Regions from separate parts of the Homo sapiens genome. Here all the other regions are linked to region 3. Evidence: fine-mapped expression QTL. A gene starts in region 3. Each other region holds a variant in brackets. All regions are shown on one strand. Distances are between the middles of the regions.

The links. PIP is the estimated chance that this variant, and not a neighbour inherited with it, causes the effect.
Region 1: its variant is the best candidate, but not a certain one, in a credible set for the expression of DIMT1 in whole blood (TOPMed, PIP 0.50).
Region 2: its variant is the best candidate, but not a certain one, in a credible set for the expression of DIMT1 in whole blood (TOPMed, PIP 0.58).

What each region holds. Positions count from the first base shown.
Region 1 is chr5:62,552,160-62,554,925 of GRCh38, reverse strand. All of the region lies in intron 26 of IPO11 (importin 11), which reads right to left. Among named protein-coding and RNA genes, the nearest start is that of IPO11-LRRC70, 25 kb to the left of the region's middle. The variant A/G (reference allele first, on the strand shown) is at 1,721.
Region 2 is chr5:62,636,834-62,639,599 of GRCh38, reverse strand. No RefSeq gene overlaps it. Among named protein-coding and RNA genes, the nearest start is that of LRRC70, 59 kb to the right of the region's middle. The variant G/A (reference allele first, on the strand shown) is at 1,395.
Region 3 is chr5:62,402,804-62,405,569 of GRCh38, reverse strand. DIMT1 (DIM1 rRNA methyltransferase and ribosome maturation factor) reads left to right here and starts at 1,665. Exons shown (of 12, transcript NM_014473.4): 1 at 1,665-1,876; 2 at 2,224-2,297. The coding sequence starts at 1,798. RefSeq lists an enhancer at 1,455-1,744.

The DNA of each region.
Region 1 (2,766 bases), 150 kb before region 3:
CTGGCCAAAATGGTGAAACCTCATCTCTACTAAAATACAAAAATTAGCCAGACATGGTGGTGTGTGCCTGTAAGCCCAGCTACTGGGGAGGCTGAGTCAGGAGAACTGCTTGAGCCTGGGAAGCAGAGGTTGCAGTGAGCCAAGATTCTGCCACTACACTCCAGCCTGGGCCACAGAGCTAGACTCTGTCTCCCCACCCCCACCCCCCCAAAAAAGTGTGTGTCTGTATAACAAATACAGTATATATACTACAAATACAGTAACCAAAATAGCATGGTACCAGCATAAAAACACACACAGACCAATAGAACAGAGAACCCAGAAATAAATCCATACATTTACAGCCAACTGATTTAAGAAAAAGATAGCATGAATATTTATGGGGAAAAAACAGTTACTTCAACGATGGTGCCAGAAAAACTGGATATCCATATGCAGAAGAACAAAACTAGATCCCTACCTCTCGTGATATACATAAATCAACTCTAGATGAACTAAAGACTTAAAATGTGAGACCCACAACTATAAGATTACTAGAAGAAAACATAAGGAAAACACTCCAGGACTCTGGTCAGGGAAAAGATTTTACTAATAAAACCTCAAAAACATAGGCAACAAAAGGAAAAATAGACAAATGGGATTCTATCAAACTAAAAAGCTTCTATATGACAAAAGCAACCAACAACAGAGTAAAAGAACATCCCACAGGGTGGGAGAAAATAGTTGCAAATTATATATCCAACAAAGGATTACTATCCGAAATACACAAGAAACTCAAACAACAGCTAAATAAAAATAATAATCCATTTTAAAAGTAGAACAATTATCTGAATAAACAGCTCTCAAACGAAGACATACGAATGGCCAACAGGTACATGAAAAAATGGTCAACATCTGCCAGGCGCAGTGACTCACACTTGTAATCCCAGCACTTTGGGAGGCCGAGGCGGGCAGATCACCTGAGGTCAGGAGTTCGAGATGAGTCTGGCCAACATGGTGAAATCCCATAGCCAGCCGGGGTGGTAGGTGCCTGTAATCCCACCTACTTGGGAGGCTGAGGCGAGAGATTCACTTGAACCCGGGAGGCAGAGGTTGCAGTAAGCCGAGATCGTGCCACTGCACTCCAGCCTGGGTGACAGAGTGAGACTCTGTCTCAAAAACAAACAAAAAAAAGGTCAACATCACTAGTCATCAGGGAAATGCAAATCACAACCACAATGAGATATCATCTCACTCCAGTTAGAATGGCTATTATCAAAAAGGCAAAAAAAAAAAAATGCTGGAAAGGATGTAGAGCAAAGGGAACTCAGGCACTACTGGTGGGAATGTAAACTAGTGTAGCCATTATGGAGAACAATATGAGTTTCCTCAAAAAACTACAAATTGAACTATCGTATGATCCAGCAATCTCACTACTGGATATATACATCTCCAAAAGAAAGGAAATCATTGTATTGAAAAGATACCTGCTCCCTCATGTTTATTACAGCACTGTTCAGAATAGCCAAGATATGGAATTAACCTAGGCACCCATCTACAGATGAATGGATACAGAAAATATCACACACACACACACACACACACACACACACACACACACACTCACACGAATACTATTCGACCTCAAAAAAGAATGAATTCCTGTCATTCATGGCAACATGAGTGAGGCTAGAGAGCCTTATGTTAAGTGAAATAAGCCAGGAACAGAAAGAGAAATACT[A/G]CGTGTTCTCACTTACATGTAGAAGCTAAAAAAGATGACCTCAAAGAAGCAGAAAGTAGAATAGTGGTTACTAGACTGGGAAAGGTAAGGGGAAAGTGAGGAGAGAGAGAGATATTGGTTAAAAGATAAAAAAATCACACATAGATAGGAGGAATAAGTTCTAGTGTTCTATATAGCACTGCAGGATAACTACAGTTAACAGTAATATATAGTTTCAAATAGTTAGAAGGAGGCTGTTGTATGTTCCCAATACAGAGAAATAGTAAGTGTTTGGGGTGACAGATATGTCAATTACCCTGATTTGATCACTATATGCTGTATGTATAGAAATAGCACTATGTACTCCATAAATGTCTACAACTATTATGTGTCAATTAAAAAAATTTTTAAGAGATTAATCCATGACTTTGGTGATTAAATATTTACTCATTGTGATCTCAGACTGAATCTTCATGAACTAATGCAAGGGAAGAAGGACATATATTTCAAGAAATGTTGGAAACATGACCAGGCCCCTCATGGAAACAAGAAAGTAAATACATAGTAATGGCATCCTGATGTTTCCTCTGGGTAATTTTAATTTCCTCTCTTATGTTCTTAAATATTTTTAGTTATCCTGTAATCTCAGCACTTTGGGAGGCCAAGGTGGGAAGATCACTTGAGCTCAGAAATTTGAGAACAGCTTGGAAAATATAGCAAGACCTCATCTCTACTTTAAAAAAAAAAAAAAAACTAAAAAATATATATTACCCCATTTCAATTAAAATTAATAAGCTAATAAAAATATACCCTATTTATTTATCAAAACAAGGGTTGGGATCTCTAATTAGATTAGTCTAATTCTAGAAAAGCTACATATATTTTAAAATTTGTACTTCCTTATTCTGGATTTCCTTGTATTAGAAATAGTTATATTTGTTTTCAGCCATAAACCAAAAGATTTTAAAAAATTGTCTCCATTGTAGATATATTCGTCAAGTATACCATATCTTCAACATCTTATAAATCTTAACAGATTAATGACTTACAGCATAATCTTATTTGAA
Region 2 (2,766 bases), 230 kb before region 3:
GAATTCCTACTGAGATTACTTATTAAATTCATTTATTTCCATTCTGACCATTACCACCTGGATTTATAATAGCTTCTAAACTGACCAGCCTGTGGTCGTTCCCCACCTCCTCCCACCCCACCATCCCCACCTGTTGCAGTCAAGATTCTGGCTTTAAATTGCAAATCTGTTTTTATTGCCTTTCCATACTTCCTCTTCTTCCTGTGGTTCTTAGAGTCCTTTCTGCATGTTGTTCCCTCTGACTAGAAGACTCAGTGTCTTAGCCCAATATCCAGTCACCTCCTCATCCTTCACACCTCCCCACCCCATCATCACCTCCACAGACCTGCCTACCCTTCTCTAACTCCCTGAGGTCAGACCTGCCTTGCAGGTGCTCTTAGTGCTCCAGGTCACCATTCCACTTTTACACTTACTTGCAGGCTTATTTGATGGATGTCTCCTCTGGTGGACAGAAAGCTCAAAACAAAATAGTCTTCTCTGCTTTTGTTTATCATTGTATCCTCAGCACCCAGCATAGTGCCTGTTATATGTAGGCACTCAATAACATTTATTCAATGAAAGTTGAATGAATGACTTAATTTTCACAACTACCTCTGGAAAGAAAGCTATTATCCTCATTTTACAAATGAGAAGATTGAAGCAACTCAAGAAAATTAAGTTACTTAAGTTGTAGATACTTAAAGACTCACCCCAGTATCTTAGTCTTTTCAGGCTACTATATAAGAAAATACCATAGACTGGATGACTTTTATAAAAAAAAACAACAGAAATTTATGTCTCACAGTTCTGGAGGCTGGGAAGTCCAAGGTCAAGGCACTTACAGGTTCAGTGTCTGGTGAGGGCTCACATCCTCACACATGGCGCTTTCTTGTTCTGTTCTCACATGGTGGGAGGGGTGGGGGGGGTTTCCCTAAGGCCTCTTTTAGAATGACACTGATCCCATTCATGAGGGCTCCACCCCAATGACCTAATCACCTCCCACCCTCATCACCTTGGAAGTAAGGATTTCAACATATGAGTTTTCAGGGGGATACAAACATTCTGACCACAGCACCCAGGTTGCTGATTATAAAGCTCGCATTCTTTCCTCTGTACTATTTCTCATAATATGATACAAATGTCACAAAATATGCTGTGCTCAACAAAAGGTGTGGTCAGAGGAAGCATCCCACTGGTGTCAAATGCAGGTGAGAAGAATATGAGTCCTATGTGATGCTGGGCTCTTAAAACACCTCTTAGGAGGCCGTCCATGGTGGCTTGCGCCTGTAATCCCAGCACTTTGGGAGGCTGAGGTGGGCGGATCACCAGGTCAGGAGATTGAGACCATCCTGGCTAACACAGTGAAACCCTGTCTCTACTAAAAATACAAAAAAAAAAAAAAAAATTAGCCGGGC[G/A]TGGTGGCAGGCGCCTGTAGTCCCAGCTACTCAGGAGGCTGAGGCAGGAGAATGATGTGAACCCAGGAGGCGGAGCTTGTGGTGAGCCAAGATCGTGCCACTGCACTCCAGCCTGGGCTGACAGAGCGAGACTCTGTCTCAAACAAACAAACAAAAACCACACCTCTTAGGGCACCTCTCTCAAGAAGACCTTTACCACCCAAAACACAGTTGGCATATATCAAAAGCCTTAGAATATTAATATCGCCTTAATATTGATAACTCTTTACCTAGCAATTGTATCCAGTAGCTTTAAGAAAAATTTAAGAGCTGTACACAAGAATTTATGCACAAGGATGGTCATTGTGGTATTATTGTCAAACAGGTAACAGTTAAATAATGACACTCCCTTATAACACATTTTTATGCAGATGCTCCAAACATATTTCTAAAGAATATTTAACTGACATGGGAAAATGGTTAAATATTACAGTCAGGTAAGAAAAGGACAACAGGCTAATAAAAGAACACTAGTAATGATTCCAATTTTAAAGGTATGTGTTTCTAGCTATACACAGTCATGAAAAATAAAATACGGCAAAATGTTAACTGGTTATCTCTTAGTAAGATTGCAGGCAAATTACATTTCCTTCAATACACCTTATCGTATTTTCAACTGTTTACCATCAGCACGTGTTGCTTTTATAATGAGAAAAAAATGTTACTAAAAAGCAATTGACCATGTAATTTGCTCAGAAAGTTTTTCTTGCTATGTTTTTCAACTGCTCTTTCTAAATTATTTCAGAAACAAAAAGTCTTTGGAGGAATTTTCCCTCTGCCGATGCTCGGGTTAGGTTATTTATATAATGGAAGGCCACATGGAGACGTTGGACTTCCTGTATGAGTTTCATCATATAAAAAGCTTGGAAGTTGTCACTCTTTGCTTTTATAAGAAAAAGCTGGACAAACTGAAAACCAATGACTTGGACTCATTACAGGGCAAACTGTCTCCAGAGTTTGCAAACTGTCTCCAGCAAATCCAGAGACAAAGCTGAGATCAACTTACCTGGAGCAGAAGTGTTGGATCTCTAAACTGGTAGGCTCACTTCTGGGAACAGTCTTGGGGAAAGCCTCTTGGTTTTGTGAACATTACCTCTAGGAATCCCACCAGTTTCTCATTGTGAAGATCAGAGAAAGATGCCATCATAGTTCTTGCAGGAGGGGAAGAGTGATTCTTATGAAATACGTCCAGAGCTTTCTTCATAATAAAAATGATAAAAGAAAATAAACTCTTCGGGGGAAAGACTTAACCAGGCTTTAGGCTTGTTCTAGAGCCATGGGGAAAGGCACTCCTCTCGCTCCAGCCATTTCTCCTCTTCCTGTCTCACCTGAG
Region 3 (2,766 bases):
ACAGGCCTGCACCACCACGCCTGGCTAATTTTTGTATTTTTTGTAGAGACGGGGTCTCACTTTGTTGCCCAGGTTGATCTCAAACTTCTCAGCTCAAGTGATCCGCTCGCCTTGGCCTCTCAAAGTGCTGGGATTACAGGCATGAGCCACCTCTCCAGGCCATGTCCATCCTATTAACATTTGGAAGTGCCTAGCACAGTGTACTCTTTAGAATTGTGGAATAACAATGATTGATGAAATGAAACATATACTTGAAGATGCTACTAGGGTATACGAGATTTTTTTTCTGACTTAGAACTACATCAAAGAAAGAAGGGCCTAAGACCAAGGTTTGGGAATGTACACAATGAATTGCTCAAAAGAGAGTTAGCTTTAGTAATGACAGGAAGAAGCTATTTCTTCAACCAAACAGAATACACACAGAAAAATTTAAAAGAGCCATTACACTGGCTGGCAAAACAGATGTGGATATTATGGCCCTGGTACACACGGAGTTTATAGTCAGGTACACTGTCCTGTCACAACGACCAATACGTTATCGTATTTACAGCGTTTTGGAGTTTCTGTCCATCTCTGTCAATATAATACACTTTGAAATAAGTTTCTTACTTAGAATCCCTAGCAGTGTTTGATACACAGTTGGAGCTCAATAAATGTTTACGGAGTGAATGATGAGGCACAAAAGGAATTTGTTGAATTATTTGTTAAATGAATCAAATAATTTTCTAGGATTCACGGGCTGTCTTCTGCACGATAAGCTTCATTCTGTGGGTCTGAGTTTCTCCTGGTTCTCAATTCTGTCTTTTTGTGGATTATCTACTTTGTAGCTGGAGCTTTGTATCTGTTTAAGATAATTATTCTTCTATTCCTTTTTTTTTTTTTTTTTTTTTGAGACGGAGTCTCGCTCTGCCGCCCAGGCTGGAGTGCAGTAGCGCGATCTCGGCTCACTGCAACCTCCGCCTCCTGGGTTCACGCCACTCTCCTGCCTCAGTCTCCCAAGTAGCTGAGACTACAGGCGCCCACCACCACGCCCGGCTAATTTTTTGTATTTTTAGTAGAGACGGGGTTTCCCCGTGTTAGCCAGGATGGTCTCGATCTCCTGACCTTGTGATCCGCCCGCCTCTGCCTCCCAGAGTGCTGGGATTACAGGCGTGAGCCTCCGCGCCCGGCTCTTCTATTCTTAGTAGAAGCAACCAGTAGCCCTAGCGAAACCAGACGTTAATTCCATTCTCGCAGTTCTTTTCCCCAGGGCAAGCAGCAAAAAATGCATTCCCACAAAAGAGCAAGCTCATCCCCAAATCCCGGGTTTCCCACCCCCACAAGCTTCAGGAAAACAGGAGCGAGGCACGTGAATACTTCTTTGGACCTCAGCGATCCCAGAACCTAGGCTACTAAAACATCCATAGGCTTAACCTCATCATATAACTTAAACAGCCTTCGCAACACCGAGAGCACCACACCAACACCTTCTTATCCAGCCCTGGTTGGGACAAGGGCTCCAACTCCAGACTGCAGTCCTCGGTAGCGCGGTGTCTTCTGGGATCTGTAGGCTCCCGCGGTTCGGCCTTCCTCCCTCTGTGACTCCAATTCCCGGCAGTCAGTGGGCTCCAAGGTCCGCCCTTTTTCTGGAGGAGGAGCTCAGAGCGTACGGGAGGGGGCGGACCCTTGCCCCTCCGGCGCTTGGGCCAGAGTGGTGCGGGCGGCGCGTGGCGGCGATCCCCACGTGGTGGCTTTCTCACGCTAGCCCTCTTTGGTCCTCCTTGACGTCCCGGGCCTGTGGGCCCGCTTTCTGCCGAGATGCCGAAGGTCAAGTCGGGGGCCATCGGCCGCCGCCGCGGGCGGCAGGAGCAGCGCCGGGAGCTGAAGAGCGCTGGAGGTGCGGATCCCCGCGAGGAAGCTGGGGTCGGTCGGGTCAGGTCTTCCGGCAGGACCTAGCCTGGGGTGCGGACCAAGACCTGATCGGCAGAGGCCGGTCAGGACGCGCTCCCGTGAGCGCGGAAGGCAGGGGTGGGTCCCCGACTCGGCCGCAGGCCCTGCGCGTCGCCGCTGACTTCCTTTCCAGCTGGAGGATGAACTTATAAAGAGTTTGTCAGTCCTGGCGTGACGTTTCGTGGCCCTGGTTGGCGCAGAAATCTTCCCCATACCCATGCAGCTTTCTTCTCTGGTACTGCCTAATATCTAATCTCAGTAGGAAAATTAATGCTGTTTCGTATTTTCTTACAGGACTCATGTTCAACACGGGGATTGGGCAGCACATTTTGAAAAATCCTCTCATTATTAACAGCATTATCGATAAGGTGGGTGTGGAAGAGGAAAGGGAGAGAGTTGTTGGTTTATTAATTTTATTCCTATGAATACATAAGCGCAGAAAGTCTGCCTGCCGTAAATTAGATGCTCTGTAAATATTTGTTGAATGAATCAAATAATTGTCTAGGATTCTTGGGCTGTCTTCTGCATGATAAGCTTCATTTTGTGGGTCTGAGTTTCTCCTGGTTCCCAATTCTGTGTCTTTTTGTGGATTATCTACTTTATAGCTGGACCTTTGTATTTGTTCAAGATAATTATTCTTCTATTTCTAATCACCTTTTTGATCACTTAGTTTTTATGTACTCCATCTATTTATGTCTAAACTACACATTAGAAAGTTTGTTCCCCAGAAAAACATATAGTACTACATATAAATTATTTGGTGTATGCTAGTACCACATATAAATTGCTTGGAGTATTACTGCTTTCTGAGTTATTGATGTTCTCTTATGGTTATGG